3 linked regions of the Homo sapiens genome follow. The protein of the gene in region 3 interacts with the protein of the main gene of each other region in a pairwise test. Each region holds a gene or a part of one and is shown on either strand. Other genes may lie near its edges.

Region 1 (7,025 bases), on a different chromosome or scaffold from region 3:
GGTACAGGGAACAAGTCCACCGATGGCGCGTACAAGCCTTCCTTCCTCACAGAGCAGGTACCCTGGTCATCACATCACCATTGGAAAGCGGGGGGAATCCCAGCGTCACCAAGACGAAATAAACTACGTGGGGAACCAGGGCTCAAGGTTGAGGAAGGAATGAAGCCAACATGTTTTGTTTCCATTTTTCTCCAAGAAGCTGTCTTCAAAAGAGGGTTTGTCTGATCTTTGGGTCTTCTGCTTTTATGTTTCCCATAACCTTAATGGGATGTCACTCAAAAAAATATATTGAGCATTTGAACATCGTGCTCAGCACACTGACACAGGAAGAAGTTAGTAAAAACGCTGTATGCTGGAATTGTGCTGATATGATCAGCCTATGAAAGTGATGGTATATGAAAAAATCTCCACATCACTGATCATTAGAGAAGTGCAAATCAAAACCACTATGAGATACCATCTCACTCCAGTCAGAATGGCTATTACTAAAAAGTCAAAAAGTAACAGATGCTAGTGAGGTTGCAGAGAAAAGGGAACACTTATACACTGCTGGTGGGAGTGTAAACTAGCTCAACCATTGTAGAAAGCAGTGTGGAGGTTCCTCAAAGAGCTAAAAACGGAAATACCATTTGACCCAGCAACCCCATTACTGGGTTTATACCCAAGGGAATATAAATCGTTCTACATAAAGACATATGCTTACGTATGTTCATTGCAGCACTATTCACAATAGCAAAGACATGGACTCAACATAAATGTTCATCAATGACAGATTGGATAAAGATAATGTGGTACATATACACCATAGAATACTACACAGCCATATAAAAGAATGAGATCATGTCCTTTGCAGGAACATGGATGGAGCTGGAGGCCACTATCCTTAGCAAACTAATGCAGGAACAGAAAACCAAATACCACATGTTCCCACTTGTAAGTGGGGGCTGAATGATGAGAACACATGGACACAAAGAGGGGAACAACAGACATTGGAGCCTCCTAGAGGATGGAGGTTGGGAGGAGGGAGAGGATCAGAAAAAATAACTAATGGGTACTGGGCTTAGGATCTGGGTGATGAAATAATTTGTATAACAAATTTTCGTGACATGAGTTTACTCCCTTGGCAGTACGTAACAAACCTGCATGTGTACCCCTGAAAAAAGTTAAAGAAAAAAGACAGTGATGGCAGCAGTAGTGATAATAGTAGCCGCGATCAGAGCACTTAGCCGGCCGGCATTTGCTGGGTGCCTGGTGTGAGTCATAGTTTTCTGTGAAATATCTCATTTACTACTTATTCTAGCCCTGTGAAGAAGCCACTGTTATTTAGCTCTGTTTTATTGATGAGGAAGCTGAGGCTTAGAGTCAGCAGATTGCTCAGGGTTAATCTGCTGCTTAGTGGAGGAGCCAAGATTGGGTCCAGTGAAGACAGGCTGGTAGGACCCCAAAGCCATATTTTTAACACCTACACTAGTCTTTGACTAGTTGGCAAGAAGAAACGCACAAAATGGCTAGTGAGGTCGTATTTTATAAGTGGCTTTACATGAGCCAGAGGCCTGTGTTCAGGGTCTTTGTATTTCCATGTGCTGGTCATAGGGCAAGTTGGCAAATACTCTAAGCTTCAGTGTGCTCATCTGTGAAATGAACATAAAGCTTTTTGCTTTCCTGTCTCCAAGAGCTTTTGCAGGATAAATGAGGTGATGGATTTGAAAGCACTTCATTGTGTATAGCCGGTGGGGGGGCATTGGGGTGGGGAGGTGAAATAATACAGTTGTCAGGGCATGCAGTTAGGAAATGCAAAAGTATGTAGGGTATAGGGTCCTAAAAGTAATGGAGGATTTAACAAGACACAGCGTGTGGCCAAGCTGAAATAGAGTGGAAGTGTCCTGGTATTATCAAGAGGGACTTCTCAGGACAGAGACAGTATTGGCATAGAAAGGAGCCACAAAAAATACCTAGAAAGAGGGGAGCAGAAGGGATTTCACAAAAAGGGAAGAGTGTGTACAGAACCTCACAGGCAGGAATGAAAAAGATTTTGTTGGGAGACCTAATGATTTATTCTGCTAGAGCCGAGACTCGATTTATGTCATGGAAGTTAGGTTTAAAAAGAATAAGGGATGAGGAACTAACGTTTATTACTGTCTGTTCTGTGGCAGACACTTTAGCAAGCACTTCACCTATTTGATCCCTTTCTAAATCATCCCAGTGGTCATGGGAGCCCTCGCTTGGCAGATGTTAGGAAGGTCCAGCAGTGGTAATATGTGCCACTTGGAGGACACAAACTGTGGTGGTCAGGGCAGGAGCTTCAAGCCTCATTTCCACCTCTGTAAAAATAAATGCAGTGATAGCTCCCAGCTCGTGTGGTTGTGGTGAGGAAGGCAACAAGCATAGACTGTTTAACATGGGCCTGAGGTATAATGAAGGGTAAATAGCTGGTAAGTAACAGACAGAAATTATTGAGCACTACTGGCTGCTAGAATCAGTTTTTTGTCTATATTTTTTTAATCCTCACCAAAAGACCTACAGAGTCAAGGTTTGAAATGAATCTCGTTATCTTTAAGTGACTGAGGATTATGAAAGTGGCGTGAAGAGAGAAGGCAGCTATGCAGGTCAGATGAGCCCTACCTTTGTTCCTCTCTCAGCTGCTTGGATGGTGATGATAATGGTTACATTTATGGAGCACCTACTGTGTGCCAGGCCCTTACTAAGTCCTCACACACAGCATCTCATTTAACCTTGCAAGAGCTCACTGAAAAACATTGCTGAGGGCGTGAAGTAACATGCCCAAAGTTGCACAGCTAAGTGGGAGAGCGGTAGGTGATAGTCTCCTTTTACTCCAGAATACATGCTCTTAACCGTGACTGTTTTCTTGGAGTGTAGAGGCTGGTTCTGGATCAGGGCACAGGAACTTGGTAGTGATAGATGGTCTCCCAGGGAATACACATCAGGGAGGAGGGTGGAAAAAAGAGGGTCCGTGATGCGAGCAGGGCTTCATCCCATAAGACCTCCCCACAGTCTTTGCAAACTGGACAAAAATGTGAATTCATGAGTAAAGTCATTCAGTCTCCACTTCCTCTCCTCCAGTGACAAAGAATTCTGTACTTCCCCAGGCACCCTCTTCCGTTTTTAATTCTCTTAACAGCTCTTTCTGTTGGGAAGATCATCCAAAAACTGAAAATAAAAATGCTGACCGAATTCCCTGAACTAATTAAGCATCTAGGTGACGCAGAACAGCAAAAGTGCAAAGCAAGAGAAATGGGCAAAATAAACTTATCCTTAAAAAATGCTTGTACCAACTGCTTCTGCCCTGGTTTCCCAGGCAGAGGATGTTAGAATTCCTCCCCAGCCAAGGGCTTAGACACATTTACAAAGCTCCCTGGGTTCTGCTCATCAGCATATCAATGTTCCCTAGTCTCTGGGTCCTTGTACCCTGCTCAGTTACTGGGATTTGGGGCGCCAGACTCTCCACCTTTTGCCTTCACTCTGCTGGCTGTCCATGTGCTTTACAGTGGGGTTTTCACATAAGATTACATTCAAACAAAAGATTGCCAGCCAAAAGATGTTTGCTAGCTGCTGACCTAGAAGGATACCTTTGTCCTCTGGAGCCTGAACAGTACTTGAAGTGGTTGGAAGGGTGGCCATGGATTACAGTGTCTAGGGAAGACTTAGTGCCTGGCTCCTGCAGGCACAAAGCCCATTTCATTCAGTGGCAAAGGGCTCCTTAGCTTGATGTGAGAATAGTATGGGCAACTATACTTGAGCTGCCTTCAGGCGCTGCAAAGAAAAGACATCTTGTTTTAACAAAGTTAATTTTGCCCCATCCACGTCCTTCTGAGGATAATATCAAGGCTTCCTGCTGCCCCTTCCTTGATCCCAGTTTCCTCCCTGCCTTCAATGACAGTCATGACCCCAATGAATCAATGTGAGCTGAAGGTTGATGCTCCTATCCTCTTCTCACTGTAAAGTGATATGGATAATGCTGTATTCCCTGCTGCCTCCCAGAGTTACTCTGAGAGTCTTTTGAGATGATGGTGATTATTGTCAGTTCTGGAAATCTGACAGAAATGCAAATGTAAGGGGATACTCTTATAGCCAGTGCCAGCATTCAGCTCAGAAATATGGAAAGAGAAAAGGAACAAGAGGGTACTTTCAGTACGGCAAGCTGTGGGTGGGGAGACACGTGGTCTCTTTCGTTCTCCCTTCTCACCTTCCCCTTCCCCTTCCCTTCCTTCTATCTAGCACCTTTTGTGCCAAGCACTATGTGTTGGGCCCTTCTGCTCCAATGACATGACTACAGTTTCAATATGTGGCAAAGCTGTTCACGCCTCTGGCAACCCAGTACCTTCTGGTGATCACTCATTGCTCTCCCATCCCCCTAGGCTGGAAATTTTCTCTCCCCAACAAAGGACTAATGAAGATGGGCTAACCGTGTTTACAGTAGCTGTATCGTAGGGATGGTGCAAGCTTTGTGCATTTTTCTAGCTTATTTTCCAGAAACAAAGTTCTCATTTCCCAAACTATTTGTGTACCAGAATAAATATGCAGATAAAGGAAATTGAAGGCTGCTTTCCCAATAAGAAAGTTGAATCATCCTGGGTCTGTCAGTGTATTGTGCCAATCATAATCTTTTCTTTATAGGAACTGAAGCATCTCATCCTTGAAGCAGCTGATGGATTTCTGTTTGTGGTGGCTGCTGAGACAGGGCGAGTGATTTATGTGTCTGACTCCGTCACCCCTGTTCTGAACCAGCCCCAGTCAGAGTGGTTTGGGAGCACACTGTATGAACAGGTGCATCCTGATGACGTGGAGAAGCTGAGAGAGCAACTGTGCACCTCAGAAAACTCAATGACAGGTCAGTGGAGCTCCCTTTATGAGGCTGTTTGACTCTAGAAAACATTCTTGGCTGGGCATGGTGGCTCACGCCTGTAATCCCAGTACTTTGGGAGGCTGAGGCGGGTGGATCACGAGGTCAGGAGATCAAGACCATCCTGGCTAACATGGTGAAACCCCGTCTCTACAAAAAATACAAAAACAAAAAATTTGCCAGGCGTGGTGGTGGGCGCCTGTGGTCCCAGCTACTCCGGAGGCTGAGGTGGGAGAATGGCATGAACCTGGGAGGCAGAGCTTGCAGTGAGCCAAGATTGTGCCACTACACTCCAGCCTGGGTGACAGAGTGAGACTCTGTCTCAAAAAAAAAAAAAAAAAAAAATTATTTTAGTAAACAGGCCAGGAAACTGGAGGCCATAAAAAGCTGCCTAAAGGTGAGGGAATATATGTGAGTTGGCCTGTGTGATAGCTTCATTCATTCGATAACATTTAAAAATCCATTTTTACTACATCACATTTTTCTGTATTTTACCTGCAATTAGTATACATTACCACTAGAGGTTGTCGTTGATATATTAGCCAGATCCATATGCCCTGTTTGAAGTTTATCCAATAAGCATGTGATTTTCTGTGATCCTGACCATAAACATTCATTACCCAGGCCTTAGTTACCTGAAATCTAGTTCCTTATTGAAATGTTTAAATATAGTCAATTCTACTCATACATGTTTCTAAAAATCACTGCAGTATACACAATCATGCAATTCAAAACTATAGGGCTTATCGAGAAAAAGTGGTTTAGAAGAACAACACTCAATAATTTGTCAGATAAAAGCAAAAATAAAAACCTATTATAAATGGTAGCACAGCTTTAACATTAAGTGGTTAAGAAATGTATACATCTTACCACACATATGGCAGTTGAGTTTGAAAATGACCTAAAGTTTGCTTAAGAGGTGGTCTCAGAAGGTGTGGTCATTTGTATGTTATTGCGAAATGGTAGGAGGACAGTCATGTGAAATCAGACGGAGAGTTTTAACTCCAAATGTGGATGAGTGTGGCTAATAACACACCGTGGGCCGAGAGAGCTGACTGATGTCTGAGGTATGTGAATTTTGTGTATTTCCGTGTGGCCCGGTTCAGCTAGGCACAACCTTTCTATGTTCATCTAGTTTTTCTTACAGATAAGCAAACACAACATTCACATTATGCTCAGATTGTTCCTTAATATGTCAATCACATTGGAACAAATTTGCATTGTTGAAACAAGAGTTATAGAAGCATTATACCAAAATATTTGCATTCTGCTCTATGACAGATATATTTGTGTTGTCATTCTCCCTGACCATATTGTGAGCTGTTGTATTCCCACTTGCTTTTGTGTCTGCCCACAGTGCTAAACTCAGTGCTTTGCCCATAGTAGGCCTTCAGCAGAAGCCTGATGAATTAGTGAGTGTGTTGTTTATTGTGGTCAGCCTAGGATGCCATAACAAAATACCACAGAATGGGTTACTTAAATAACAGAAATGTATTTTCTCATAGTTCTGGAGGCTGGGCATTCAGTGTCCTAATCCATTTGGGCTGCTATAACAAAATACAATAAACCGAATAGCTTTTATGTAACAGAAATTCATTTCTCACTGATATGGTTTAGATCTGTGTCCTCACCCAAATGTCATGTTCAATTGTAATTCCCAATGTTGGGGGCAGGCCCTGATGGGAGGTGATTGGATCATGGGGGTGGGTTCGCCTGAATGGTTTAGTACCATCCTCTTGGTCCTGCTCTCGTGATAGTGAGTGAGTTCTCACAAGATCTGGTTGTGTGTAGTACCTTCCCACTCTCTCTCTTAAGAGTTCCTGCTTCTGCCATGTAAGACACCTGCTTCCCTTCACCTTCCGCCATGATTGTAAGTTTCCTGAGGCCTCCTCAGAGGCCAAGCAGATATCAGCATCATGCTTTTTGTACAGCCTGCAGAATGGTGAGCCAATTAAACCTCTTTTCTTTGTGAATTACCCAGTCTCAGGTATTTGTTTATACAATGGGAGAACAGACTAATACAGTCAGAGTTCTAGAGGCTGGGAAGTCCAAGATCAAGGCACCTTGATGTCTGGCAAGGGCCTACTTTCTAGATGTTGCCTTCTAGCTGTGTCCTCACATGGTGGAAGGGACTAGCTATCTATCTGGGATCTGTTTTATAACA
Region 2 (7,025 bases), on a different chromosome or scaffold from region 3:
TCCCTATGGAAAATTCTTCTTCCAGGGAGCGTTCCCAGACTCCTCCCCATCCTCCAGCACCCTTTGGCTGTGCCCACCCGTGGCTGCCCCCAGGGCTTGTGTCTGGTGTTTATATCTTTTCTCTGCCTAGGGGCGGGCCCACCTTCTCTTTGCTGTCTCACAGGAACCCCCAGCCTGTGCTATGTTGATGCCCAGGCCAAATCTTTCTCATGACCTTTCTTCATGCAGGTGCTGCCCGCAGATGAGATCCCTAAGCCCATCAAGCCCCCGACCTACCAGGTGCTGGAGTATGGAGAGGCTGTGGCCCAGTACACCTTCAAGGGGGACCTGGAGGTGGAGCTGTCCTTCCGCAAGGTGGGCCAGGCCGGAGACGGAGGGGTGGGTGGGGGCAGGTGAAGATGTAGGTAAATATGTGCACTAAAAACAGTTTTTTTTTTTTGAGACAGAGTCTCACTCTATCGCCAGGCTGTAGCGCAGTGGTGCCATCTCGGCTCACTGCAACCTCCGCCTCCCGGGTTCAAGCAATTCTCCTGCCTCAGCTTCCCGAGTAGCTGGGACTACAGGCACGCGCCACAACACCCAGCTAATTTTTGTATTTTTAGTAGAGACAGGGTTTCACGATGTTGGCCAGGATGGTCTCAGTCTCTTGACCTCATAATCCACCCGCCTCAGCCTCCTAAAGTGTTGGGATTACAGGCGTGAGCCACCGCGCCTGGCCTAAAAACACTTCTTTAAAAAAGAGTCCGATGTACCTAGCTTCACCCAGGATTTCAAAGTTTTCCCCAGTCTCTTTCATTATGCTTCCTTTAGTGTAGTGGCTTTTTTTTGCTTTTTTTTGAGACAGCATCTCACTATGTTGCCCGGGCTGACCTTGAACTCCTGGGCTCAAGCGATCCCCTGTCCCTGCCCCAGCCTCCCAAGTAATTTTGGTCCATTTTTAAAAGATCATCATAAACTTCTAGAGTTACATATATATTTTTTCAACTGCAGGTTGCAGGGGATCATACTCAGCATTTTTAAAGGTATAGACAGAAATGTTAGCATGCGTTGCGAGCAGAAAGCACTTTATCATACCGTAGGCAGTTCTGTGTATGCACATATATATGTATTCTGGGCTGTTATTAAAACATTTTTAACTGTAGATTGTGGTGAAACAAGTTTGAAAAATGCTGTTCTAGAAAGCAGGGAAGTGGTCTGCCTTTGGTTGATTTTGGGAGCAGTGATCATGCTCCCAAAATAAGCGAAAGACGGCCCATAGTGAATGCCTCCCAGAAGAGCTGGCCCCAGGGACAGAGGGGGAAGAAGGTGGCTGGATGGAGACAGATGGGGGCAGGAGAGGACAGGGGAAGGCAAGGGCTGGAGGCCACCCTCCCAGGGGGTGGTTCTACCTAATGTCAGCCAGCCTGTGGCCTTCAGGACTCCCTGCCTGTCCTGGGGAGTGTGTTTTTGACACGCTCATGACAAGGTCCCCCAGCGTGAGGCAGGAACAGGACCCAGGCAGGGCAGTAGTGGTAGCACCTGTCCAGTGTGTCTAAGGAGTGGACTGTTGATCTCGTTCACACCTCATAGTGACAGTATGGTTATTTTCACTTAACATAGGAGAAAACAAGGCTCAGAGAGACAGAGCAGGCTGCCTGAGGCCACACAGCTTGGCCTGGTGGAGCTGGGTTTGGATCTGTATTATTAGCCACGGGCTCACCTGTGATCGGAGCTCTGGGGAGGGACCTTGCTATGAACGCCGAAGGGGGATGCACACCCGTTGAGCTTCCAAGAGGCAGGACCCAGTCTCAGCCTCAGCCTTGCCTGGGCAGCCTGGGCTTGGCTCCTGGCTCCTGCTCTTACCGTGTGACTCGGGTAAACTGCTGGCCCCCTGCGATTCCGACCCCTCGTGTGTCCAAGGTGTTAGGGTTGAATGAGACAGCCCAGATAAGGCACCCGTGGGTCCATGGCACCAGGAAGGCCCCACAGACACTGACTTTTCCCCCCTCAGGGAGAGCACATCTGCCTGATCCGCAAGGTGAACGAGAACTGGTACGAGGGACGCATCACGGGCACGGGGCGCCAAGGCATATTCCCTGCCAGCTACGTGCAGGTGTCTCGTGAACCCCGGCTCCGGCTCTGTGACGACGGCCCCCAGCTCCCCACGTCTCCCCGCCTGACCGCTGCCGCCCGCTCAGCCCGTCACCCCAGCTCCCCCTCAGCCCTGCGCAGCCCAGCTGACCCCATCGACTTGGGGGGACAGACCTCCCCCCGTCGCACTGGCTTCTCCTTCCCCACCCAGGAGCCTAGACCCCAGACCCAGGTGAGGTAGCCTGCCTCCACCAGAGAGTCGACCTCCTCCTCACCCCTCATCCCCCACCCCCGTGACTTGTCCACACTTGGGACTCCTTCCCAGACAGCCCTGGGACATAGGAGTGGGGTGACAGGGCAGAAGCTAGTATGGCAGCCCCACCCTGGCCTGGGGGACCTCAACCTACCGAGCTCTAGCCGAGGGAGCTCTAGATGGAATCCCAAAGCCGGCCCAGGCTCCTGACCCTGGGTGTTCTTGGTTCATCCATGCTGGCGTCCAGAAACCCAGGCACTGACCTTACTTGGGCCTCAGTTTTCTGGCCCCTGTGAAATGAAATAGTCACAGCAGGTGTCCCTGTGCCCTGGGGGTTTGGAGGCTAAGATGAAGCCGTTTGTAAGGCGTGCTGGCAGGTGGACTGGGAACGCCCATTTTGGGCCTCCTCCCTCAGGCTTACATGTACCCATCGTCTTCCTCCCTCTGACATCCCTTTCTTCCTGTCAACTCCCAGAATCTTGGCACCCCTGGTCCAGCTCTGTCCCACTCTCGAGGTCCCAGCCATCCCCTGGACCTGGGGACCTCCTCTCCTAACACCTCTCAGATACACTGGACCCCGTGAGTACCATCTGAGGGCTCTTGATCAGACGTGGGGGGGGTCACTGGCAGGCAATGCCCCATATTCCACCCTCCCCCAAGTCCCCACCTGTGGATTTGGGAAACTTCTACCAGGTAGCCCTTGTCCTCGAAGAGCTTATGGTGATTTGGGGCAGGGAGGAGGCGCTGGTCTGTGATGTTCCCAATCCCTCCTGGCAGCTATGTGGCCTTGTGGCCTTGGTCTCCTCATTGGGTTTCTAGCCCTGAGGTCGGTGCATGTATAATTGAAGTGTGGAACTGGTGGAATGGACAGGAAGGCACCAGGTGCTCAGAGGAGGCGAGGGTTCAGTGCTTAGGGCCCAGAGGGCAGGAGGCAGGCCTGGGAAAGACTACGGTGAGCACAGGCTGAGTTGCTCTGAGGAGCTGGATCAGGGGCTAGTGAGAGCATGAAGGGACCCTGGGGCATTCACAGGAAGCGGCAACACTTGGGTTAGAGCCTCTGGGCCCATTCTCTGGTTGCCATGATACGCTTCTCGCAGGTACCGGGCGATGTACCAGTACAGGCCCCAGAACGAAGACGAGCTGGAGCTGCGCGAGGGGGACAGGGTGGATGTCATGCAGCAGTGTGACGATGGCTGGTTTGTGGGTATGTGGGCAGGCCGGGAGGGGGCATCTCAGGGCCCCAGGGGATGTGGGTGGGGTGCTGTTGCCTGCCAGTGCTGCTTCAGCAAAGATTCATGGCCGACCACCCCCCGACTCAGCTTCCGGCCGGGCTACTGGGGGGGCCTGGCACCCGATGCTTCCCCAAAGCCAGCCCTTCTGTTGGCTGCCTTCCTTCATGAAGAGGCCAAGGCCCAGGAGGAAACTGGCACCAGTCCAGGGTCACTGATGGAGTCAGTGGGGACCCAGGCCAGGGTTCCCAACGTCCAGAGCTCTGCCTCTTCCTCCTGCACACCCCTGCCTCGAGCAGCCCTGGGGGAGAGCTCCTGGTGGAAAGGACCAGGGCTCACACTTGACCTAGCTGGCTCCTCCAGCCTGGGAGGAAGAGGGAATGGAGAAAGGTCCCAGCCCCTCAGGGCTGGCCCAAGGGCAGCTCTGACCAAGGACAAATGCAGGAAGCCTCAGGTTGGCCTCAGCCTGAATCAAGGTGACCAACCCACCAGGCTTCACATGGCCTCTTTCCCCAGAGTGGGCGGGCCCTGTGCAGGTCTCATCTTCAAAGGATGGGCCGTCCCCAGAGAGAAGAGAGTGGCCAGAAGCCCCCTGCCCTGCCCCAAGCAGGCTTTGAAGCCTGAGGAGTTGGGGGGCTGCTTGGGCAGCCCCTTGACCTGGCAGCCCACCCTTCCTGATCTGATCCCAGTACAGCTGCCAGCCAGCTGTACTGACCCACCCAGGACCATTAAGCACTAGCCTGTGAATGGCCCCTACCTTCTAGTGGGGGAGGGAGGGAGGCGGTGCTTGGAGATGCATTCAAATTTACTGGATACACTTTTGCTTTGGAATTTTTTTACAACTACTAATAAAGTTTTGCAAACCTATGCAGACAAGAAGAAAAAGTACCACTTTTGTATTAGGAGCCACAAGCGCTTTGAGAGGAATGGGCGAGACCTGTGCCCTTTCCGGTATGGCAGCCACCGGCGGCATTCAGCTGTTGAAATGTAGCTCAAATGAAATAAATTAAAAATCCAGTTCCTCAGTTGCACAGGCACATCTCAAGTGCCCAACAGCCACAGGTGGCGAGTGGTGCCCATTTTAGTTAGTGCAGGTCAGGGAAGGCTTCCTGGAGGAAATGAGGGAGCTGGGCCTGGAAGGGCAGGGGAAGGATTTGGGGAGGCCAAGAGGAAAGGGAGGTACTCGGGGCAGAGGACGAGGGTGGGGGTGGGACGAGCACGGGCTGCCCCCAAGGAAGTCAGGGTGCCAGCCTGGAAGGGGAGGCCCAGGATCATCCATTCACCCAAGGTCAGGAGTGACGTTCATTTCAGTTTATATTCCTATTTTTCTATATATAGGAATATAATAATATTTATTACATTTCTGTATTTCTATATTTCTCCATTCCCTCTTCCTCCCAGGCTGGAGGAACCAGCTGGGGGGTGTGGGGATACACAGGTGTGAGCCCTGGTCCTTTCCACCAGGCGCTCTCCCCAAGGGCTGCTCCAGAGGCAGGGGTGTGCAGGGAAAAGGGGCAGGGCTCTGAAGGTCGGCAACCCCGGCCTGGGTCCCCAGTGACTCCATCAGTGACCCTGGGGTGGTGCCAGTTTCCTCCAGGGCGTCCTTCTCTTCATGGCACGAAGGAAAGCAGCCAACAGAAGTGCTGGCTTTGGGGAAGCATCGGGTGCCAGGCCCCCCAGATGCTTTGCCCGCTGGGGTTCCCCCCCCTCCTCCTCTTCAAGACACGAGTTTCTGTGGGGCTGAGAGGCCTGGATCGGAGTCCCAAGCTTACTCCTAAGCGTCGGGGTGCTCTCGGGCAATGCATTCAGCCTTCCCATAGGCCTTCCCACCCATCTCTAAGTGAGGGTGCCCTATTAGACCAGGGACGTTTCTCCCGATTTCAGTTCTGTGATTCCTCCTCCTGTGTCCCCACTTTGCGGAGGAGGGGGGGAGTGACTCTGCTGTGTACAGTGTGATGCACATTTGTTGATTGCTCAGATTCTTTGGTGGTTGAGTGTGGGAAGTGTAGCTTTGCCCATCTAAGCTTCTGCCGCTAGGGGGCAGGAAGGAGGAGAGCAAATCCAATTCCCTCTCTGGGCTCCCCTACAGAACTCCCCTACAGTTCTGGGCACTGCCGGCAGGGGGCAGGCCCTCACCCCTGCATCCCTGTTAAAGAAGGGAGTGGGGAAAGCTCTTCCTGCCTTTCCTCTTTCAGGTGTCTCCCGGAGGACCCAGAAATTCGGAACGTTCCCTGGAAATTACGTTGCCCCGGTGTGAGTGGTCTCCATGGCAACTTGGAGCCAGCCAGGATGGGGTGGGGAGCGGTGGCACTCGTGGGAGGGAGAGGACCCCCGCCCACATCCTCCTTCCCCAGGACCTGAGCTCCCAGCATCTGCAGACGACCCCCGCAGCCTTTCCCTCGGACCCCCCTCGAAGCCCCCTGGACTGATTCCCACCCACGACTCACAGGCATTCCTCCCACAGCCCTTTCATTTCCTCCCCACCCCACTCCCCAAATACAGAGGTCTGCTTTGAAGCGGAGACCATTTCCAGGCCTTATTGAGACCAGACCCCAAGTCCCCCACCCCCATCCTGCTCCAGCGTTTCCTCTAACAGGGACCAGCTCTCCGCTTTGCCCCCACGGGGTTCCTCTAACCAGAACCAGCTTCCTAGCCTCGTAGAGACCAAAGGCCGCCCCCGCCTGCTGGGGTTCCTCCCAGCACCCCAGCTTGCTGGCTGCCCTCTTTGCCTTCTGGCCTCCAGCTGGGTGTGGGGGGGCGGAGCAAGGCGGGGGACAGACGCAGCACCTTCTTAGCGATCTAGGCCTGGCAAGAGCTCTGGCCCCAAGGCCTCCTCTTCCCAGGGGCTGCCAAGTCCTGGCCCTGGCCCTGGCATATCACCCCGCACTGTGGGGCCAGGCACCACTAGCCTGGCTCAAATATTCCCCAGGGAGACTGCTGTGTGCTGCCCGCCTGCCTGCTGGCTCTCCCCCAGCCCCACATCCCCTCTGGAAGAGAATGTAAAATAAACCTGGACACAAGGGACCTTGTCTCTGCGGCCTTTTCCTTGGGGTAGGGGATGCCTCCTCCTGTCTAGGAGATGGGAATTCCTTCTGTGGAGGGCTGTGCTGGGAGACAGGTGGGACAGGTGTGTGTGTAAGAGGAGGAGGATGGAAAAACACCATTATTACCTCCAAAGATCTCTGCCCTTGGGTGTCAGGCAGGTTGCGGCAGCCCCCACAATTGGGCAGCTGTGTGGCAAGAAGTGCTGGGAGAATGAACAGTGCCAGGCCCTGGTAGCAGGGAGACACCAGAGATGGGGGACTGAATGTGGCCTTGTTTGCAGACTGTTTTGATTCTGGAGCTGCCACCGTGGGGTTGCTGGGCTAGATGACATTTCTAACTATTCTGCTGTTTTCCTTCTGTGTGCTCTGTTTCCACACCGAAGCCCTTGTGTGTGTGTGTGTGTGTGTGTGTGTGTGTTTATTCTCCTC
Region 3 (7,025 bases):
ACAAGCGAAATGTAAGTTTCTGGCTGCCTACTAACATGTAGCTACACAAACCTGGAAGTCTTCCTGCCAAACATGCAGAAGAGTCTTCGCATCAAAGAGATAGTGAGGCCTGGAGGGGGACGCCTGGAGTGCCTGCCGTTGGGGACACAGGCCTGGTCACAGCCCTGGGGGCGGAGGAAGCAGGGCTTCCCGAGAGGCAGACTGCACCCAGGTATCTGCGCTGGGGCAGCTTCTCATTGAGTGGATGCACCCCAGGAGGAGCAGGGACTAGAACTCCTTTATTCAGTGATTGAAACTGTGAGAGGCAAATCAATCTTGGGGCCCCCAAATCACTAAGTTAAAGGAAAAGTCAAGCAGGGAACTGCCTAGGGCAAAGCTGCCTCCCGTCCTACTCAAAGTCTTCCCTCTGCCCACTGAGATAAATGCACACCTGATTGCCTCCTTTGGAAAGGCTTATAAGAAACTCGAAAGAATGCAACCGTTTGTCTCTCACCTGTCTGAGACCTGGAAACACCCCTCCCTGCTGGAGTTGTCCCGCCTCTGGACGGAACCAATGTCCATCTTACATATAGTGATTGATGTCTCAAGTCTCCCTAACGTATACAGCCAGGCTGTGCCCCGACCACCATGTGTACATGTTATCAGGACCTCCTGAGGCTGTGTCATGGTTGTGCGTCTTCAACCTTGGCAATTAAACTTCCTAAATTAGCCTGGCGTGGTGGCTCACGCCTGTAATCCCAGCACTTTGGGAGGCCGAGGTGGGCGGATCACGAGATCAGGAGATCGAGACCATCCTGGCTAACACGGTGAAACCCCGTCTCTACTAAAAATACAAAAAATAATTAGCCGGGTGTGGTGGTGGGCACCTGTAGTCCCAGCTACTCGGGAGGCTGGGGCAGGAGAATGGCTTGAACCTGGGAGGCGGAGCTTGCAGTGAGCTGAGATCGCGCCACTGCACTCCAGCCTGGGCGACAGAGGGAGACTTCATTAAAAACAAACAACAAATAAACAAACAAAACTTCCTAAATTAACTGAGACCCATCTCAAATATTCAGGGTTCACAAACCTTTTCTCTAGGGTGGCCATGATGGGGCAGGAAGCCAGATGGGGAAAAAATACCCCAGGAGTGAAAGGGCGTGGAGAAGTGTGGGTTTGGGGTGAGCTGTTTTCCTTCTGCATTTCCAATAACCTGCATGACCTTAGGTGAGTTAATTTACCCAACTTGGGGGCTCATGGTTAAGGATGAAACTCACCTGTAGCAAAAGCATTAAAAAAAAAAAAAAGAAAAGAAAAAAGAAAGTCACCCTATTAGCTGACCCAGAAAGATTGTTCTAGGCCAGGCTCAGAATAGAGGAAAGGGCTGAAGGGAGACCACAAGGACTGGGGGACCTGTGCCAGAGGCACGGGGCAGGGCGTGGGGCTCAGGGGCCAGGTGTTACCCCCTCCTTAGAGGCTGGGGCACTATGGGGAGGCCCAGTTGGGGGCCATGTGACAGGGCGGTCTGCTGCTTGCACGGGACAGGGGGTCCTCGGGTGAGCCCAGCTCTGCTGCTCACCCCCACTCATGTGGGGTGGACAAGTCCTTTCCCTATCTGAGCCTCAGTTTCCCCCTCTGGAAGAAGAGGAAGACAGACCAGATGCACTCTGAAGCCCCTGTACCTCTGGCTCACGGGCTCACTGTGGGGGGCCTGTGAAATCCCCCAAATCACTAAGCTAAAGGGAAAAGTCAAGCTGAGAACTGCTGAGGGCCACCCTGCCTCCCATTCCATTCCAAGTCACCCCTCTGCTCCCTGAGATAGATGCGTATCTGATCGCCTCATTTGGAGAGGCTCATCAGAACCTCAAAAGAATGCAACTGTTTATCTCTCACCTACCTGCGACCTGGAAGCCCCCTCCCCACTTCCTGCCTTTGCTTCAAGCTGGCCCAGCTTTCCAGACCGAACCAATGTACTTCTTACAAATATTGATTGATGTCTCATGTCTCCCTAAAATGTATAAAACCAAGCTGTGCCGGATCACCTTGGGCACATGTCATTAGGACTTCCTGAGGCTGTCACGGGCGCGTCCTCAACCTTGGAAAAATAAACTTTCTAAATTAACTGAGACCTGTCTCAGATTTTCTGGGTTCACAGGCCCAACCTTCCGTGTCCCCCAAGGCGTTCCGGGGCGGCCTCACCTTCGCTTCTTCTGCATCCAGTCCTTGACCTCCAGGTCCGGGAGCCCCATCCACTGGCCTTGGCTCAGGATCACCATGGAGCCTTCGATGGACTGCAGGGAAAGGAACCCTTTGGTCCAGGCCTCTGCTCGCCTGAACCCATTTGGGGCTAGAGGGCATGGGAGGCCTTTGCTGGGGCTGGGTAGAGGGAGGAGGGAGAGGCAGGGTTGCGGGGTGGAGAATGAGGAAAGGGAGATGCCAGAGTCCCAGCCCCAAGTGGGGAGAACGAGGGAGAGAGCCCCCCACAAGCCATGCCCTCGCTGCCCCACTCACGTGCCAGGCTCCCCCGGGGAGGTTCCGGCCCAGAACCACGTGGGGGATGGCGTGCTCCTTCCGGTGCTTCCAGGTGAGGACCGACTTCATGTTTCCCCCAAAGTCTGTGTCTGGGCGTAGAAGGGCATCAAAGAGCAGGGCCACGGGGCTTTGGGATCGGCCTTCGAGGCCTTCGGACAGGTAGTCCAGGTCCTGGAGGGGGGCATAGGTCAGAGGGGCTGCTGGAGGAGGGCGGGGTCGTCTTCCCAGAGCCTGAGGCTGGGCAGGAACGTGGGGACTGGGGCCGGGCCATTTCCCTGGCACTGGAGGGTCTCAGAGAGATGCGCACCCTGGGGGTAGTTTGAAGCTCTCGTTTTGAGGTCTTTCTAGGAGGCCAAGGGCCCCAGAGTACAGACCAAATGCGCAAGCTTGGGTGAGACTGGAGCGATTGCCTGGTCCTACATCCCTACCCTAATATCAGTGTGGTCAGATCAGCTTGGGAGGTGCTGCCTCTTAACAGCAGATAACACAGACGGGCATATTAAAGGCTCTGACAAGTCCTGCAGCCATCATTTACCTGTTTAATTTTGCCAAACCCAGTGTGTCCCTGTTTTACTGGAGTGGGGACATTTTTCTCTCTATATTATACTGAGGAACTAGTATTCTATAGAGAGCACTTTGAAAAATGCTGATCTAGATCAAATGGTCAAGACCTATTTCCTCATCTCCAACTCAGGGGCGGGAAGGGAACAGGAGGATGTACACTGCCTGACGAGGGAGGTCGACAAGGGGAGGTCGTGGAGGAGCACAGTGGAAGACAAGGGGTACGGAGGGAGGATTTGCAAACCCTTGTGGGCAGGAGGTAGTGGGACTGAAATATCTGTGGTGGAGTTTCTCAACCTTGGCCGCACTGACATTTGAGCCAGATCATTCTTTGTAGCCAGAACAAAGTCATCCAAATGTCAGTGGGGCCAAGGTTGAGAAGCTCCACCACACATATTTCAGTCTCACCACCCTCGTTGTCCTGTGCAGTGCTGGATGTTTGCCAGCATCCCTGGCCTCCACCCTGCTAGATTTGGTAGTACCGTCACCCTGCCATGACAACCCAAATTGTCTCCAGACATTGCCAGGTGCCCCCCGAGGAGAAAAATCATCCCCTCCTTGAGAACAACCGGCCTAGGGCATAGTGAGCCCTAGATCGTGTGGCATTTGTGGGTCTCTGATTTCTCTTTCACGATCTCCGTGGCTGACTTTGTGGACTCTCGAATTCTTTGTTTAGTCTTGTTTCCAGCAAACACACACTTTTGTTTTTCCCTGGGAAAGCGGCGGTAGTTTTCCAAGGGCGGGTATGTACTACCCAGAGCTCTGGCCCCAGGCTGACCCACCTGGTCCAGGATGGAGACCCCCGGGGCCTCGGTGAGCTTCCTCTGCAGCAGGGGGTGTGGGTGGATGGCATCTGGCTTCGTGTAGGGTGTGTAGCCGGAGAGCAGGTAGGACAGGCAGATACCAGAGGGGCCGTTACCTGGGGAGAGAGGGTGGAGGTTAAAGGGGGTGGCCTTTTCAGGTGGGGGACACTACTGTGGAGGGCTTTGATCTAGATGCGGCGCATTCATTCATTTATCCTTCATTCATAAAAATAAATATTTATTAAGCCCTTAGCCTGTGCCAGACACTGTGCCTAATAATACTTTTAAAAAGAAGGAATGAACAACTGCTGAGAGCTTACTCTGTGCCAGGAATTGTACTGAGAGCTTTCACAACAGCCTCACAACAGCTTTAGCGAGGTAAGTGCCACTCTTTTCCTCCTTTTATACTTGAGGAAATGGGCACAGAGAGGTTAAGTTACTTGCCTGTGGTCACACGGCCGGAAGGTAGACGAGCCGGGATTAAAACCCAGACAGAGGGAATATCTGACGACGCGACTGAGATTCTGAGATTGCTAAGAACTAGGTCAGATGGATGAGTGAATGTAGCACAGATTGCTACGTGGCCTGGGGGCGAACTTGAGTGGTGGGTGCTTGTGGGCGCTCAGGGGTGCTGAGCCGCCTGTTGGGTCTGCTGCTTGCACGTCTGAAGAACTGCGCTGCCATCTGTGGCGCTTCCTGGGCGATTCACCAGGCACAGCCCTGTGATAGCGCTTCTCTTTTTATCTGTCCTTTCCCCTCTTCTTATCTCGTCTGATTCGGAATATTACTCATATGCAGGATACCAGGAAGAACCATATGAAATCACAGGCACCCATCTGCTTTTGCCTTACAGAAATGACCATCTCACGTGGCTTAATCGGACGCCTGCATACTGGGGGGTCATCTGTCCCCATTTGTGCAGACAGAGGACAGGAATCATAAGCCGCTACTGTGTGTCCTCTCATGTGGGCACCTAGCACAGTGCTGGGCACAGGGTAGTCATGGGATCAGTGTGGGCTCAGGACCAGGCCTCCCTGCGCCACGCCGGGTCGCCTCCAGCTGATGGGTGTGTTCTAGACCCCTGGGTTCTCGGAAGTGTGAAAGGGAATGATAGCTTATAAACTGCTAAGCCTAGCACTGGCCACATAGTAAACGCTCAATGGCTTAATTTAAAGACCACTGTAAAGAGGCCAGGCCTGGGCCAGGCATGGTGGTTCACACCTATAATCCCAGCACTTTGGGAGGCTGAGGCAGGCAGATCACTTGAGGTCAGGAGTTCGAGACCAGCCTGGCCGACATGGCGAAACCCCATCTCTACTAAAAATACAAAAGTTAGCTGGGCATGGTGGCATGCACCTGTAATCCCAGCTACTTGGTAGGCTGAAGCAGGAGAATCGCTTGAGCCCGGGAGGGAGAGGTTGCAGTGAACCAAGATTGCACTACTGCACTCCAGCCTGGGCGACAGAGTGAGACTTTGTCTCAAATAAATAAATAAATAAATAAATAAATAAATAAAAAATAAACCCCAAAAACGAAAAAAGACACCAGGCCTGGACTTGCCCAGCTCCTGCCCTCAGACCTGGGGGGTACCCGGAAGGCTCAGCGGAGCCCCTCCCTGGCTGGGGCCTGACACTCACCCACAATGATGACCGGGAGGGGCTCTGAGCTGCTGGCGCCGAGGTGGTCCTTTCTGGAGGAGCTCATGGCTGGTGGGGGGCTTGGGGCTGGCAGCGGACCTGGAGTGGGGGAGAGGGGAAGGAAGAGTCCATTCGGGTGAGGCCTGGGTGTCCACACAGCCACTTCACCTCCCAGCTAGGGTGGCCTCCTGTGGCCCTCAGGGTCTGGTCCGGGGTCCCCATGAGACATATCTGACGGGACTCCCTTCTTGCTCTCACACAGCCTCTGCTCCAAACAGGCTGTTTGCCCCACCCCTCCCCAGTCATGCAGAATGTGCCCTCCCCTCCTCGGGCCTGGTTGCCCCAGGCAGCCACTGTCCCTCCGAGCCTCACTCTACTCTCCCATCTCACTGGGGCAGTAACAGTCCCCGAAACTCATTATCTGTCTTCCCGAGAGGCCATTCCTGCCCAACCCAGGAACCAGCCCTGCCAGACCCTTCTGTGGGCCACAGTCCTCGAGTCCCAGTGTGGCCTGGTGGACTCGTCATCCAGCCCTGGCACGTTGCTTCCTATCCCATTCCCGGGCCTCTCTGGGTCTCAGTTTCCTCATCTGTAAAATGGAAGCAATGAGTCCCTACCTCCTAGGGTGGTTGAGGGACACAGTAGGATCACAGACGGGAAGCACCTGCCTGGAGTGAATCTGCCACAGGGAATGGGCCAGCGCTGTGGCCTGCCCCAGGAGCTGGGATGGACTTGGGGAAATGGAAGCAGTGGCCAGGTTTGGGGACGTGCTGGTGAACCTGCCATCTCTGGGGCAGCCGCGCCCTCTGCTGGCCGCAGGCCCAAATCGCTCAAAGGGACCCAAGTGCTGGTCCTAGAGCTGCCGGTTCCCAGAGGAGCATCAGACCTACCTTCTTCCCCACACCAGCTAGCAGCGGACACCAGCCTCACCCGAGGGCCACATGCTGCCATCCTGAGGACCACAAGGCAACACCCTTGTGGGCACAGGGATGATGAGCATTTGGCACTTACTGTGTACCGGGTATTTGACATGCTTTTTCTCATATCCGCCTCACGCTGACCCTGTGCAGCCCTGGCCATATTAATGTCCCATTTCACAGATGTGTAAACGGGGCTCAGAGAGGTCGCACAAACTTCTCAGTGTCACACAGCTGGCTTTGAAACCCAGGGCTCACTGGTGCCAAGACCCTGCCAGTGCCACCACCCACACCACTCGGCCTGTCCCTCGAGATCCAGGGCCCATCCAGGTGTCACACTCAAGTGGGCGGGCACAGGGCTTGGACCACCCAGAGTGGCCAGGGGTGGGGGCCCAGGGCCACCTGCCTCCAGAATTCTTCCAGAGAAAGTGGGAATCTGGATTTCTATGTGAATGATCTGAGTTGAAGAAGTGGGCAATGAATGAACGCAGAGTTTTGGAAGATGCTTAAAAGGCCAACCAAACACAGCTGAGACCAGTGTGTGGCCTCTGATGTGTGCAGGGTGACAGAAACACCTTCGTCCACCTCCAGGCAGGTCC

What was found.
Region 1: the proteins of OSGIN1 (region 3) and ARNT2 interact in binary tests that used the Homo sapiens proteins (3 or more experiments, as listed by UniProt).
Region 2: the proteins of OSGIN1 (region 3) and SORBS3 interact in binary tests that used the Homo sapiens proteins (3 or more experiments, as listed by UniProt).

Annotation. Positions count from the first base shown.
Region 1 is NC_000015.10:80,470,375-80,477,399, forward strand, and holds part of ARNT2 (aryl hydrocarbon receptor nuclear translocator 2), read left to right. Parts: coding exon 1-57; intron 58-4,635; coding exon 4,636-4,849; intron 4,850-7,025. UniProt on the Homo sapiens protein: Transcription factor that plays a role in the development of the hypothalamo-pituitary axis, postnatal brain growth, and visual and renal function. Specifically recognizes the xenobiotic response element (XRE).
Region 2 is NC_000008.11:22,568,920-22,575,944, forward strand, and holds the end of SORBS3 (vinexin), read left to right. Parts: intron 1-228; coding exon 229-354; intron 355-1,990; coding exon 1,991-2,302; intron 2,303-2,798; coding exon 2,799-2,902; intron 2,903-3,420; coding exon 3,421-3,527; intron 3,528-5,747; coding exon 5,748-5,809; 3' UTR 5,810-6,869; downstream 6,870-7,025. UniProt on the Homo sapiens protein: Vinexin alpha isoform promotes up-regulation of actin stress fiber formation. Vinexin beta isoform plays a role in cell spreading and enhances the activation of JNK/SAPK in response to EGF stimulation by using its third SH3 domain.
Region 3 is NC_000016.10:83,956,223-83,963,247, reverse strand, and holds part of OSGIN1 (oxidative stress-induced growth inhibitor 1), read right to left. Parts: intron 5,609-7,025; 5' UTR 5,577-5,608; coding exon 5,510-5,576; intron 3,989-5,509; coding exon 3,852-3,988; intron 2,680-3,851; coding exon 2,488-2,679; intron 2,268-2,487; coding exon 2,176-2,267; intron 1-2,175. UniProt on the Homo sapiens protein: Monooxygenase catalytic activity. Involved in regulation of cytokinesis; promotes RHOA activity, probably acting locally at the midbody in late cytokinesis.